2 separate regions of the Homo sapiens genome follow, and region 2 is linked to region 1. Evidence: fine-mapped expression QTL. A gene starts in region 1. The other region holds a variant in brackets. All regions are shown on one strand. Distances are from middle to middle. Region 1 holds the start of R3HCC1L (R3H domain and coiled-coil containing 1 like). Region 2 has its middle 33 kb from the start of R3HCC1L.

What was found. PIP is the estimated chance that this variant, and not a neighbour inherited with it, causes the effect. A credible set is the group of variants that fine-mapping cannot tell apart.
Region 2: its variant is the best candidate, but not a certain one, in a credible set for the expression of R3HCC1L in sun-exposed skin (GTEx, PIP 0.58).

Annotation. Positions count from the first base shown.
Region 1 is chr10:98,133,296-98,136,211 of GRCh38, reverse strand. It overlaps R3HCC1L (R3H domain and coiled-coil containing 1 like), which reads right to left and starts at 1,555. Exons shown (of 10, transcript NM_001351015.2): 1 at 1,506-1,555. RefSeq lists enhancers at 857-996, 339-1,128.
Region 2 is chr10:98,099,987-98,102,902 of GRCh38, reverse strand. No RefSeq gene overlaps it. Among named protein-coding and RNA genes, the nearest start is that of R3HCC1L, 33 kb to the left of the region's middle. The variant C/T (reference allele first, on the strand shown) is at 1,240.

The DNA.
Region 1 (2,916 bases):
CTAAAAATACCTAACTACACTTTCTTACCCCTTTAAAAATTAATCGCAGAGGTCGGGCACAGTGGGCACAGTGTCAAACGCCTGTAATACCAACACTTTGGGAGGTCGAGGCGGGAGGATCATTTGAGCCCAGGAGTTAGACCAATCTGGGCGACATAGTGAAATCCTGATTCTACCCAAAAAAAAAAAAAAAACTGATTGCAGAATTAGCATTCTCTGTAAGGGGAAAAATAAGACAATAAGCAACTTGCTTAGTCTCAAAGCTTAATGTCAAAAAAAATTAAACAGATGGGATATTTGGCTATTTATATTCTGAATTTCAACTGTGACACAAGACACAAGACCTGCTGGGGACAGGTATTAGTTGTAGTACAACCATATCTGAGGAACGTTTACTGCTTTATGCTTGTACCTGTGTGATACTGAAGGAAGGTTATAACAGCAAGAGATAGTTGTGTGTGCTGAGGAAGAAGAGTCTAAATTCTGGTGGGCCTTAAAATCCAGATGAAGTTTTAAATTGACTCCACAGGTGGTAACGCCCTAAGGTCACCTCTTCACTAGGAACCTGGCATAAAAACATCTGTATGGTTCAGATTCGTTTCCAAAGACACTTTCCCCCTATTTATTAACTAATTTGATCTTCGTATAGACATGAACCTGGTTTTAAAACTCAACTGACCTAGACTGGAGACTGGGGGATGGCAAGGTTATACCCGAAACATACTTTAGAGTTCAAAGCTTTCGCAGGAATATCACTTCTGCTGAAGCCCACAACCCTGGAAGGCCGCAGGGCAAAGAACATTAACCCCACTTTTCAGACAACGAAACCGAGGCTGCGCTAAACAGACTACTGTACAAAAGATCACAGGTCCAGCCAAGTGGCGGACTGAGACTTCCCCCAGGATATCAGACTCCAAATCCTGTGCTCCTTCCCGTACACAACTGAGAGGGGGCTGCACTCACAAACTTTAAAGATCGGACTTGGGGTTTTTCGCAGGCCTGCCAAGAAAAAGCAGGAAGTACATGCTCCTTTATAGATTGCTCACTCCCAGCCCGTAGCCCGGGGCTCCCGGGCAGCGGAGGAGGCTCAAAGGCGAGGCTCGAAGCGAAGCCCGGAAACCGCCGGCAGCCCTGGGGGCCCACGGCCCCGCAGCCCCGAGGGGGTAACCAGGGACCCCGCTCAATACCTGTTGAAACCCAGAAAAAGCACGTCCTTTCCGCCAGGATCATTTGGGGCGAGCGCCCAAAGCGAGCACGAGCCCCAGTGAGTGCAAAAGAGCCCCGGGAGGGTCCCTCTCAACCGCGGGCCCGCAGGGGTCAGAAGGCGGGAGCTTCCCAGTAACCTCCGCCCCAGGCAGGGGGCGGCCCCTCGCGTCACATGAGGAAAAAAAATACCAGCAACAAACGACGGAATGGAAGTCTTGTCCCGGGCTGTGAAGGGAGAAGTGGGGATTAAAAATCCTAGCTTGAGGTACAGAGGGAGGGGATACGGGGCTGGTTGTTACCGGCGCGCTGTTGCTCTCCGCTTCCGCCGTCTCCGCGAAGCTCTATCTCTTCCGCTCGCGCCGCTGGGGCGCGCGTCAGGCCTCGGCTCCGCCCCCAACGCCGTGGGGCCTTCTGGGGGTTGTAGTTTCCGCGAGGCCCGGCCGCGCCCACTGAGTTCAGGTCACGTAGGGGAGAAGCTGGCAAAATGGCGAGTGCCGGAGAGCATTTCTGCTCCTGTCCCTTCAACCCTTCCTCATTCCTCTCGGCTATATACGTGCGCAAATCTCCTTACATTCCACTCAATTATACCATCTCACTTCCTCCGTTCACAGCCAAGTTTTTTGAAAAAGATAATCTACACTGTCTCTACTTGCTCATCTGTGTTCACTCCTCATCGCAGCTTCCGCCCCCATGGAAAATGCCTTGTTGTCATAAGTGTCCTTGTTGCCAAACTCATTGGAGGTATTTCCGGACTCATCTAACTCAAGCTTTAGTCATTTGACGCTATTGGGCATTATCACTTATTTTCTATGACACTATCCAGGTTTTCCTTCTCTGAATTCATTCTACTTTGTTTCCTCTAACTTACCTCTAAAATATTGGTGTTTTCCAGAGTTCTTAAAATTGGGGTGGGAGAGGGGACACTCCAGTCCCTTCTCACCTGAGCTCATTGTTTGTATTCCCAACTTCCTAGACAAGACCTCTCCTCATCCATGCCCACAGGCATCTCCAGTGTCCTTGAAAAGTGAACTACTGGGGCCAGGAACAGTGGCTCATGCCTGTAATCCCAGCACTTTGGGAGGCCAAGGCAGGTGGATCACCTGCGGTCAGGAGTTCGAGACCAGCCTGACCAACATGGTGAAACCCTGTCTCTACTAAAAGTACAGAAATTAGCTGTGCGTGGTGGTGGGCACCTGTAATCCCAGCTACCCAGGAGGCCGAGGCAGGAGAATTGCTTGAAGGAGAATCGCTTGAACCCGGGAGGCGGAGGTTGCAGTAAGCCAAAATTGCACCACTGCACTCCAGCCTGGGCAACACAGGGAGACTCCGTCCCCCAAAAAAAGAAAAGTAAACTACTACCCCTCCTCCCTACTCATTAATATTCACTCTTTAACCTGATTCCTCCTTTCTCACTTCCTCTTCCTCCAATATTCAAATGGTCACCAAATCTTGGAGATTCTATTGTAGCAGGACGAGCCGCAGACAAAACCTCTCAGACACCAAGTTGTAGAACGAAGGGCTTTATTCAGCTGGGAGCATCGGCAAGCTACTGTCCTAAAATCCAAGCTCCCCGAGTGCACAATTTCTGTCCCTTTTAAGGGCTCACCACACTAAAGATTTCACATGAAAGGGTCGTGATTGATTGAGCAATCTGGGGTGTATGTGACAGGGGCTTCATGCAGTGGTAGTCAGAGTGAAACAGAACAGAGT
Region 2 (2,916 bases), 33 kb after region 1:
AGCACCTACCACTTTCAAGGCCCTATGTTCTGTGCTTAGTGGATACAAAAATAAAAGTTAGCTTTCCTATTGTGATGAGTAACACAAGAGTGACACAGTGTAGGGTTCAAGAAGAGAAATATCTATTCAGGTAAATCAAAGTATCTTTTATGGAGGTGGTTTTGAGATGGTTCTTAAAGGAAGAGTAGGATTTCAACAGATGAAATGTGAAGGGAAGTTGGTCCAGGCAGATTCATCTCATTGGCAGCAAGGTGTGGAAGAACTGGGATGTAGTTCAATTTGCCTGTAGCTTGGGCACCAATGAGAGAGTAATGGGATTATAAAACCAGAAAGATAGTGAAAAGACCTTGTAGTGGTCTAAATCCATTCTTGGGTTTAGAATGGAAAGTGTTGGCTAAATCTAAAACACATTGAGAAATCATTAAAAATGTTTGATTGGTTTGATGTTTCAGGAAGATGTTTCTGATGGGTGTTGTGTAGAGTGATCAGAAACTGGGAGAGCTAGGAGGCAGGGAGACCAACTGAGAAGACTGTCAATTTGACACCGAGGTTATGTTGGTCAGGATGCAGCCAGAGGCAAAAGTGTGAGGTCATGGTAGCTGACTGGTTGAGGGGCCTAAAGGAAAAAAGGATATGGATAACTCTGAAGTTTCAAACTTGGGCAACTGAATAATCCAACATAGGAAAGTGGGGAAGTGAGGTTGATTTGGCTTGGGTGATGATGGTAAAAATGTTGGTATTACATATGCTAAGATTAAAGCTTCATAAACCAAGTATAGCTACTCAGTGAAAGGCTAGTAGTGCTGGAGTTGAAGGTAAGGAGACAGGTGGTAGAGGTGTAGAGGAATCGTCTACATAGATATAAACATGGAAGCTATGGGAATAGGTAAGAGCAATGAGATATAACATATCATATAAAGGGAGAACCGTGAAGGAAGCGATAACGGTTATATGTTTGGATTGCAAATAATGGAAATCCCTACACATCATGGTTTAAGTAATGCAAGGAACTTATTGGCTCATGTAACTGAAAAATCCGATAATAGAGTGGGCTTCAGGCATAGTTCAGTCAGGGATTTGGATCCGTTGTGCATCAGTTCTCTCTGCTTTATTCTGTGTGTTGTTTCATTTTCATACTGGATTCCCTCAAGTTTGTACAATGGTAGCCAACAGCAATTAGGTTTACATGCTTTGTCGTTTATATCCAAGAGGAAAGAAATAACTATTTTCCCTCAACTA[C/T]CAAACAAAAATCCTGAGCTTGGCGCTAATTGGATCACCAGAGGTCATATGTAAATGTCACATGTTAATTGCTCTGGTCTGGTTTTCCCTGAGACATCATTGTGGTAGGAGGAATGGGTTTATACTAATGGGCTTAGATGAGTCATAGCTTCCACTAGAGCTGGGGGTAGGATCAGTCCCTCCCAATTCTCCTGGCTGCTACACAGTGGGAGGTAGATATCATTTAAAGTTCACTAAAAGGTTTGAGAACAAATTCTTATAGAGGTACAATTTTGGTAGGATAGAAGGGACTCTAAAGAAATTTTACGGCCACGGAACCTCAGATAGGAAAATGTTTCAATGAGGACAAGATAGCCAACAGGGTGGTAGGAATGATGACCGATAAAGGGTCATTTGCTTGGATTTTTAAGAAAATTATTGGTGGCCTTGACATGGCAGCTTTAGTTGAGTGTTGGTCATCAGTAAAAGAGGGCAAAAGGTTGAGAAGGAACTAGAAGATGAGATGGTGAAGTGTAGACTCTTCCTTCAGAAAGATGGATGGTGACAGAAAAAGATATTTCATGGGGAGAGGGAGAAATTGCCTATTGCTTTTAGGAAAAGGGAGATGAGGATATTTGCAGGCTGAGGGGAAAGAGCAGAAGAAGAGGGAGAGACAGATGATGTAAAAAGGGTGGAATAACTGATGCAGCATGGTGCTGAAGAGACAGGAAGAGGGACCGTGGTCAAATATGCAGGCAGGGAGGTGTGTTTGGAGAGGAAATCAGACACCTCTTCTTCAGAGATCAGCCTAGGAGGGAAGCCCAGGTAAAAATAGAAACATTGATGTGGAAGGAAGTTGAGGAAACTCAGGGACATGTGTGTAACTTTCCCAGTAAAATCACCTCTGAAGGTTGAGAGTGGCTTGATGCCCCAGGCAGGCCCAGAAGATTTGGAACAACCCCTGGGGGAATTCATTAGGAGGCTACAAAGCACGAATAAAAAGACGAGAGAATTGCAAATTAGTACAGTCTTTTGGAGAGCAGTCTGGCACCTCACAACAAAAGCCATAAAAGCGTCTCTAGCCTTTGACCTAATAATCCCTCTTCTGGGAATATATACCAGGGAAATAACTGAAAAGGAAATATAAGCTATTTGTGAAAAGATGTTTATTTCTGCCCTGTTCATAATAAGAAAATCCTGGAAAACACCCAAAAGCTCCACAAATGGGGAATTATTAAGCAAACTATGAAACATTAATATGATAGAATATTATATAACCATTACAAATGATAAATACTAGTACTCTGTCAATACATGAGAAAGTTTATACAGAAAAATGTTAGGTGAATGAGGTAGAGTATGAAATGGGATGAATAGTTGATTTCTACCCTTGCAAATGATGCTTATACAATGGCACGGTTTATAAAAGGTCACTGAATTATGCAAATAGTTGGTGTGAGGAGGTGAAGAGATTTTTTCCCCTTTAGAAAATTGTTTACTCATTTTTTAAAGAGTTGGCAAGCAGCTGAAGCTGGTCTGCATGCATTTCTAGTAATGCTGATGTGCAGGACTCTTGGGCAATCTCTCTTTCCAGAGAAAGAAACGGAAACTGGGGGACATGCAGAGCCAAAGACAGGTAAGGCAGTGAGTCATGAATGCAGGGTTCATCAAAAGATGATCAAGCTCTTTCCTGAAATG